2 linked regions of the Homo sapiens genome follow. The protein of the gene in region 2 interacts with the protein of the main gene of each other region in a pairwise test. Each region holds a gene or a part of one and is shown on either strand. Other genes may lie near its edges.

Evidence for each region.
Region 1: the proteins of DGCR2 (region 2) and DOCK4 interact in binary tests that used the Homo sapiens proteins (3 or more experiments, as listed by UniProt).

What each region holds. Positions count from the first base shown.
Region 1 is NC_000007.14:112,199,800-112,203,548, forward strand, and holds part of DOCK4 (dedicator of cytokinesis protein 4), read right to left. Parts: intron 1-3,749. UniProt on the Homo sapiens protein: Functions as a guanine nucleotide exchange factor (GEF) that promotes the exchange of GDP to GTP, converting inactive GDP-bound small GTPases into their active GTP-bound form. Involved in regulation of adherens junction between cells.
Region 2 is NC_000022.11:19,038,739-19,042,487, forward strand, and holds part of DGCR2 (integral membrane protein DGCR2/IDD isoform 1 precursor), read right to left. Parts: intron 3,222-3,749; coding exon 3,069-3,221; intron 2,557-3,068; coding exon 2,320-2,556; intron 384-2,319; coding exon 127-383; 3' UTR 1-126. UniProt on the Homo sapiens protein: Putative adhesion receptor, that could be involved in cell-cell or cell-matrix interactions required for normal cell differentiation and migration.

The DNA.
Region 1 (3,749 bases), on a different chromosome or scaffold from region 2:
GACATGATACAGAAGAGTCTAATATTGGTCATTATGTAATCCTTGTCAAAAAGGTCCTGGTAGGAAGACATACAAGTACTAAAAGAGAAAACTTACGCAATGCATGTGATGGCTTTAAATATTTGTTCCATCTTTAATAAGAAATACTACAGAAGACAGACTTTGACTTAGACTGAAGGAAAAAAGGATAATTAAATTCTTTGTTAAAATAAACCCACATATCTGACTATCAAAGACAATAACCACCACCACCATCAACTCCTTGCCAATGTCATGAAAGGAACTTCACAGAAACCCAGTAAGATGTGAGTTGCAGTCCTTCTGGTATCACAAATGTAGCATTTAAAGCAGTGTTTTTCAAACTGTGGGTCAGGACCCATTAACAAGTCAATTTAGTGACAAGTATTTTTTTTAACAAAAAAGAATAGAACATTACATAGAGTATAAGCAAGTGCTGTTTTAATTATATGTGTGTGGGGTGGTACTGGGGGATATTTATATATATACTAGGTCAGGAAATTAACTATATTTCTTATGGGTAATAGTCAAACAAGATTAAAAGCTACTAATCTAGAGTAAGTCACTTAAACTCTATGAAACTGTTTTCTCATCTCTTAAATAGAAATTACCATTCAACTTCAAAGGGTAGACTCAGATAAAATAATTTCACTTTTTAAGTAAAACATTGTATTACTGTGTTACGGTTACAGCCTTTTAGAAGGGTTTCATTAGAGTTTAATGTTCCTCTGATGTATATATTCACAGCATGAAGTCACTGTGATAGAAACATAGACATATTGTATCAAACATAACTCAGAAAATGTTGTCTCCTTTTGGAAAAGAATAGAGCTAGAGATAGGAAATCCTAAATTTCTTGAAATTTGTATAATCTCCCTCGTACTAGCTACCATAACAGCCTCTAAAATAAAAAAAAAAAAACAAAAAAAAACAAGATCATAGAGGAAGAGCAGCATCTCTATGTGGCTTCAGGGGCCTTGTGAAGAACTGTCACTTAGGGGAATGACCAAAAGAGGGGAACATTTTTATAGACCATTCCCATAGGAGGCCAGATCAAGAACATAAGCTGCTATCCCACTGTCTGTATGGCCCTTCGGTGGTATTTTACTGGGAGGTATAAATCATTTCTCTTCTATTCCCACTTAAAGTTTAGAATCCTGTGTCAGGCTCTAAATGTCACAAACAATTCCAAGCAGAACATTATTATTTAGCTTTACATGCTATGTAGATACATCATAGGACCACTAATAGAAAACACTTTAAGAAACTGTTAGCTAAGAAACTACAAAAAACTAAGAGTAAAGGAAACACATCCTTATTACGCTCTATCACACACATACGCTATGATTAAAGCATCTTTCTAAGGAGAAAGACACCTAACTATCCTGTATGAATACGAGAAGGTGCATCTTCTTCCACCAACATAGAAGGGGCTTTAAAAAGGAACATGATTCCTACCCAGATGAGTTCAAAAACTCCTTCAAGAAAAATAGAATACAGGAATTTATGTGATGACTGAGTGATACTCGCACCACACAATTTATTTTTTAAATGACACTGTGACTTCAGATCAGCTTGTTCTGAGTTTTGTTTCTTATAAGGTTCATGGATTTTCTGCACCGATCAATCCAGCCCGTGTTCTCCTGTCAAGCTTAACTAAGCTCACACATGTAAAACATCTGGCTAGGTTTGAGGGGTGCAGCCTTCAGCTCAGGAAGATGCCATGACTCATCTGTGAATCTGTGCATAAAAGCCTGTTGGACAAATGAACGCAAAAACAATCTGCAAAGGTCTTAGCTTTCTCCATGAATAATTCCCACCACTTTAAGGCGGGGTGGGGAGGGGGGAGGAATGGGGGGGTGTGCTAACAGATGAGGACATGCAGGAGGTAGAGGTAATCTGAGGAAATTGGTGAGTATGCGATCAAGAATGCTTTAGTCACCATTCTGTGCGATAGATCACTAAAGCATGTTCCCCCTGTCTCACCAAAACTTTGTACACTTTGATCATCATCTCCACTTTCCCCAACCACCCTCTTCCCCCAGACTCTGGCAACCATCACTTTAATCTCTATATTTATGAAGTAAACTTCTTTAGATTGCACATGTAAGCAAGATCATGCAGTACTTATCTTTCTGTGCCAGACTTACACTTACTTCATTTACTATAATACCCTCCACATTACTGAAAATGACAGGATTTTCCCCTTTTTCAAGACTATATAATATTCCATTGTGTATAGATACTACATTCTCTTTACCCATTCATCTGATGATGGACACTTAGGTTGCTTTCATATCTCAGACATTTTGAGAACTGCTTCAATGAACATGGGATAGCAGATATTTCTTCAGCATACTGATTTCAATTCCTGTGAATATATACCAAGCAGTGGAATTGTTGGATCATATGGTAATTCTATTTTTAGTTCATTGAAGGTCCTCCATGCTGTTTTACATAACAGCTGTATTAATTTACATTCCCACTAACATGTGCACAGCGTTCCCTTTTCTCTGCACTCTCACCAATACTTGTTACCTTTCATTGTTTTTATACAGCCATTCTAACAGATGGGAGGTGATATCCACAGAATGGAGATACAATAAATAACAATGCATTGTATACTTCAAAAGTGCTAGAATGGATTTTAAATGTTTTTTACACCACAAAAATGGTAATTATATGAGGTGTAATTTGTTAATAGCCTGATTAATCACTCCAACTGTAAACGTACATCAAAATATCACACTGTACACCATAAATATATACAGCTGGGTGAGAAGGTGCATGTCAGTAATCCCAGTTACTCAGGAGGCTGAGGTGGGAGTATTGCTTGAGGCGATCAACCAGGAGCTTGAGGCTACAGGCTATAGTGCACTATGATGGCGCCTATGAATAGCCACTGCACTCCAGCCTGGGCAACAGAGCAAAACCCTGTCTCTAAATTAAAAAAAAAAAAATGAAAACTTAAAAAATATATTATTATTATTTGTCAAGGAAAATACATTTAAAAAACAAACAAAATGCTTCAGTCACTGCCCATGGAGCTCCTACTAGCCAGAGAGAATCAAACAAATTGAGAAAGAGAGGAACCAGCACCTCAGTTCTGGCAGCTTGCCAGGTAGCGTTTGCTTACCTCTGATCTTACTTAAAAACCAAGTGAGATATGTCACAACAAAAGTGTCTCTGTCATAGCAGTCTCAACACAATGAAGATGTTTTTCTAACCAAAGAACACAGTTAGTTGGAAGAGCTCTACAAAATTAGTACCAGGGAAGGCTTTAGTTAACACTTGCCCCAGACGCTGGGACCCAGAAAGGCTAAGTGATTTACCTAAGGTTACACAGCTGGCAGCAGTGTCTAGCCCAGAATCAAGAGCTAACTAGAATCTCCTAAGGTGAAATTGCCTATCACTGTGCCTCTTAACATGATTTCTAAAAGACAAGGTTCCCTGTTCCTCAGAACTATAACTTCATCACTATACCTTTTCCTAAAATCAGAACACTTATGACTGACTTTTCGTTGTTTTAATGAATTTAATCATTCATTAAATGGGACGGTGCCTATACATCAGTTACGAAAAAGAATTTCCATCTCCGATACATTTAATTACAGATATAAAATTTAACTAATTTTACCCATGTTTACAGTATGCTGCTTAAAATTTAATCATAAGTATATAAAAGCATAATTATCTCATACATAAATGAGGGTATATAAAAAGTACCTTTG
Region 2 (3,749 bases):
CCGCCAGTGACGTGCGGCAGTGCGTGGCGTCCAGGCTGGGACAGGGGCCTTTCAAGTCTCCCCAGGGACCGGTGTTTTCTACAACAGACAGGTGCTCCCAGACCGTTGGGGTACAGGCCAGGCCGTCTACACCACAGTATTGAGGGAGCTGCGGCTGTGGCGGCCACCCCCTGGCAGTGCCTCTGCAGCTGGGGTGCTCCCGCTCTGGGCAGGGTCAGGGGGCACGAGCAGGGCGCTGCTGCTGTCGGCAGAGTCTTCCAGGTCTGCCAGAGAGGCCCCCGCAGTGGGCAGAGGCTGCTCCAGGCGCCGGAGTAATGCACCTTCACTCCCACCATCCCCAGGGGCTGGCAGGCTGACCTCCACAGGCTCAAAAGCATCATCGTCTGCAGGAAGAGACAGAGGGGTGTCAGAGGCAGGTACGGGCCTGGCACAGGGGATGCAGGGGAGCTAGGCAAAACCAGGAGACACTCCTCCTGCCTGAAGGCCCCCCTGAAGCTGGGTGGTGAGCAGGACCTGGGTGGCTCCCCCGGGCCTCAGATTTTGAAGGAGGAGCCTGCCCCACATGACACCTGTTGTACCTACTGCCCCCTGTGGCTGGGAACCTGGTATATGCAAGGTGCAGGGCCCATCTCACAAAGGCAGACACGGGCCTGTCCCACCATCGGTGTGAGGTAGGGGAGACACACTGACCAGCAGTCACTAGAACAGAGGGGCCCAAAGGGAAACCGTCTCAGACTCAGTAAGGTGAAGACCCGGCTCAGCAAGAAGGCAGGGGCATTTGTCATCAGGGAGGCACTGGGCCCAGGTGGGTGGAAGAACATTCAGGGCTGCAGCTGGAATGTGGCAACCGGAGTGTGGGCAACAGGGCTGCAGTGAGCGGCCTGGAAAACCACACAGGTGTTTGCAGGAAGCTCTGATCCAAGGCAGGCTGTGTGGTAGGCAGTCGACTCGCTTTGTTTTGCCCGATCTTTATTACTTGCTTTTTTTTTCTTTTAAGAGACAGGATCTTAAAAGATTGCACACTGGTGTGCAGTGACGTGACCATGGCTCATGACAGCCTTGAATTCTGGGCTCAGGTGATCCTCCATTCTCAGCCTGCCCAGTAACTGGGACTACAGCTGTGCCCACTATGCACGGCTAGTTCTGAATTTTTTGTGGAGAAGGAGGTCTCACAGGCTGGTCTCGAACCAACCTGGGCAACATAGTGAGACCCCTCCTCCCGCCTCAGCCTCCCAGAGTGCTGGATTACAGGTGTGAGCCACTGCGCCTGGGCTGCCTGCTTGTCATTACCATAGGCTGTCTCTGAAAGCTAACAGCACAAGGCCCCGGTGATGCACCTCCCTCCCGGCCAGCCCCTCACAGCCCCCACCCTGCTCTGCAGCCTGGCCCACACAGGTGTCTGGGATCTGCTGCCACCCACCACCATCCCTTGCAGGAAGCTGGTCCTACCCTGGAAGACTGTGACAATCTGTGTCATGAGGGCAGGGGTCAAATGCAAGTCTTTTCTGCACCCCCAGATCATGCAAGAGCTGTGGCAGCTGACTAAACAAACGAACAGGACTGAGACCTTTAGGCACAGCAGCCCCAGCCTCACAATGCCCATTCTGCCGAGATGGGCAGGCATGCAAGGAGCCAGCCACTTTGGGGTGGCACTGCCTACCAAATATACTACAGGTTTGTGTGTGTTAGGGGGCCTAATGCACAGGGAGATGGGATGGGACACCTGCACTGCTCAACAGAGACAGAGACAGGCCAGGGGTCAGGGGCCTGCCACTCCTTAGCTACACAGCCTTGAGGAATGGCGCCCACTCTCAGATGGGTGGTAGGCTCCAACTATGGGCCAGTAGCACAGAAGCCACGCTTTCCTCCCACCTCACAGAGCTGCCTCCTGACACGACAGGAGGGGCTGTCACCATGGTGTCTCTAGCTCATGTGTCTACAGACAAGTGATTGGCTCCTGGGTCTGGGCCAGCCCTGTCTTCACAACCACCACTGTCGGGCTCCCCAGGTCTCTAGAGCTGGGCTGAGGGCCCTGAGGGCTGCCCAGATGACAGGTGCTCACAGAAGGCAGGGAGGTAGGAGGGAGGGGTCCCAGGCCTTCTCAGAGCTCTCTGCACAGATTGCCAAGGGCGGCCAGGCAGGGAGATCAGGACCCCTTCTGCACGGGCAGCCCCAGGAGAAGCCTTAAAGGAAAAACCAAAGACAAAGCCGGAAAGAAGTGAGGTCCCTAGGCCTCTGCAGCTGGGCAAGAGTGCTGGGCTCAGCCCCACGTGCCAGGTTACTTGACAAGGTGTTCCCTCTCCCTGGGGAGTCAGGCACCTGCAGGGTCATAGAACACACTGTCCGGGTGGATGGAGGCCTCGTAGGGCGGCGGAGGGTCGTCGGGCTGGCCGATGTCCGGGTACTTGTATGCCGTGTAGGGAGGTGGAGGGTCGTGGAAATGGAAAGTCCCACCCTCTCCGTCGTCAGAAAGATGCAGCGGCGTGAGGCCCGTGCCAAACCCGTCTGGGCCGTAATCAAAGCCAGGGATCCTGCGGCCGAGGTTGAAGTGGTGCACTGGGCCATCAAAAGTGTGCAACGGGAACAGAGACAAGTCACTGGGGGCAGGCTGCCTGGCTCCTGAGCCCCCCACCCCCAGGCTGGGCCTGCCGTCCCTGAGTGCACACACCTGTGCCCCGCTGCCTACCCCTCGGCCACATTCGGCATCCCCATGAGACCCCTGGTGTGCTCCGTGGCATGTCTCACCCTCACCACACCAACCTGTCCCTCTGGGCTGACACTTCTGTCAGACCCAGCCTCTGGCTGACCACACCCCTCCAGCTGGAAGGGTGATCCGGGCCTCTGACCCTCAGAGGCCTCCGAGTTCTGCCCACCCTGTGGCTCAATGGGAATAAGGAGGGTCTTGGCAAGAACTTTCCTGGCCCACAGGTGAGGACACAGACCCCACAACATGTGGCCTTCAAACCTGCCTCTGCCCCTCTCTGTCCAGGGCTGGGGAGCTCATGGAGACATGGGGTGACCTGGGGTGGGGATGGGGACCAGGGTTGTGGCCCTCAGAGGGCACTTACAGTTTGCTCCAATCAGGGACTCGATGCGCTCCCGGCGCCGCTGGCGCAGCCGGTGGACCATGAAGAGCAGCAGTGACAGGATGAGGAAGGAGGAGATGCAGCTGACGACCAGGCGCATCCCGCTGGCCATGGAGTCAAACAGACTGTTGCCATCTGAGGGGGAGGGGAGGAAATGGCCGCTCTGAGAAGGGGGCCACCCTCGTGCTACGCTGGGGATGCTGTCGTCCTCCTGCCCAGGCGGGCTGTGTGGACAAGGCACACAGTGTCTCCCTGCACCCAACCATCTTTAGGATACATGTGAAATAAGGCCGCTCAAAATCAAGAACATGGTGACAGCACAGAAGCAGAAGAGCGAATCCCAGGTCAGGAGGAGCATCTCACCATGGCCCCAGGCTGCTGTGTGCCAACACCCCTCTGACCATCACCGGAGCAAACTAGGATTTCCTGTCCTAGGACTAGCACTCCTAGGAGGCTGCGCTCATGTGCTGTGTACCCCAGGTGTGGCTGGGGAGCGGCCCTCCTGCAGAGGTGCACATCCTTTTCCAGGGGCCAGGGCTGCACACAGGCCTCCCACGTCCGTCCAACAGCAGCCTTCCTTTTGTCTGAGGCCTGGGCTCTTGGGAGGAAGGTGCTCAGTTGCCCAGCAAGAATGAGCCAGGGGGCGGTGAGGGACAGCCCTTT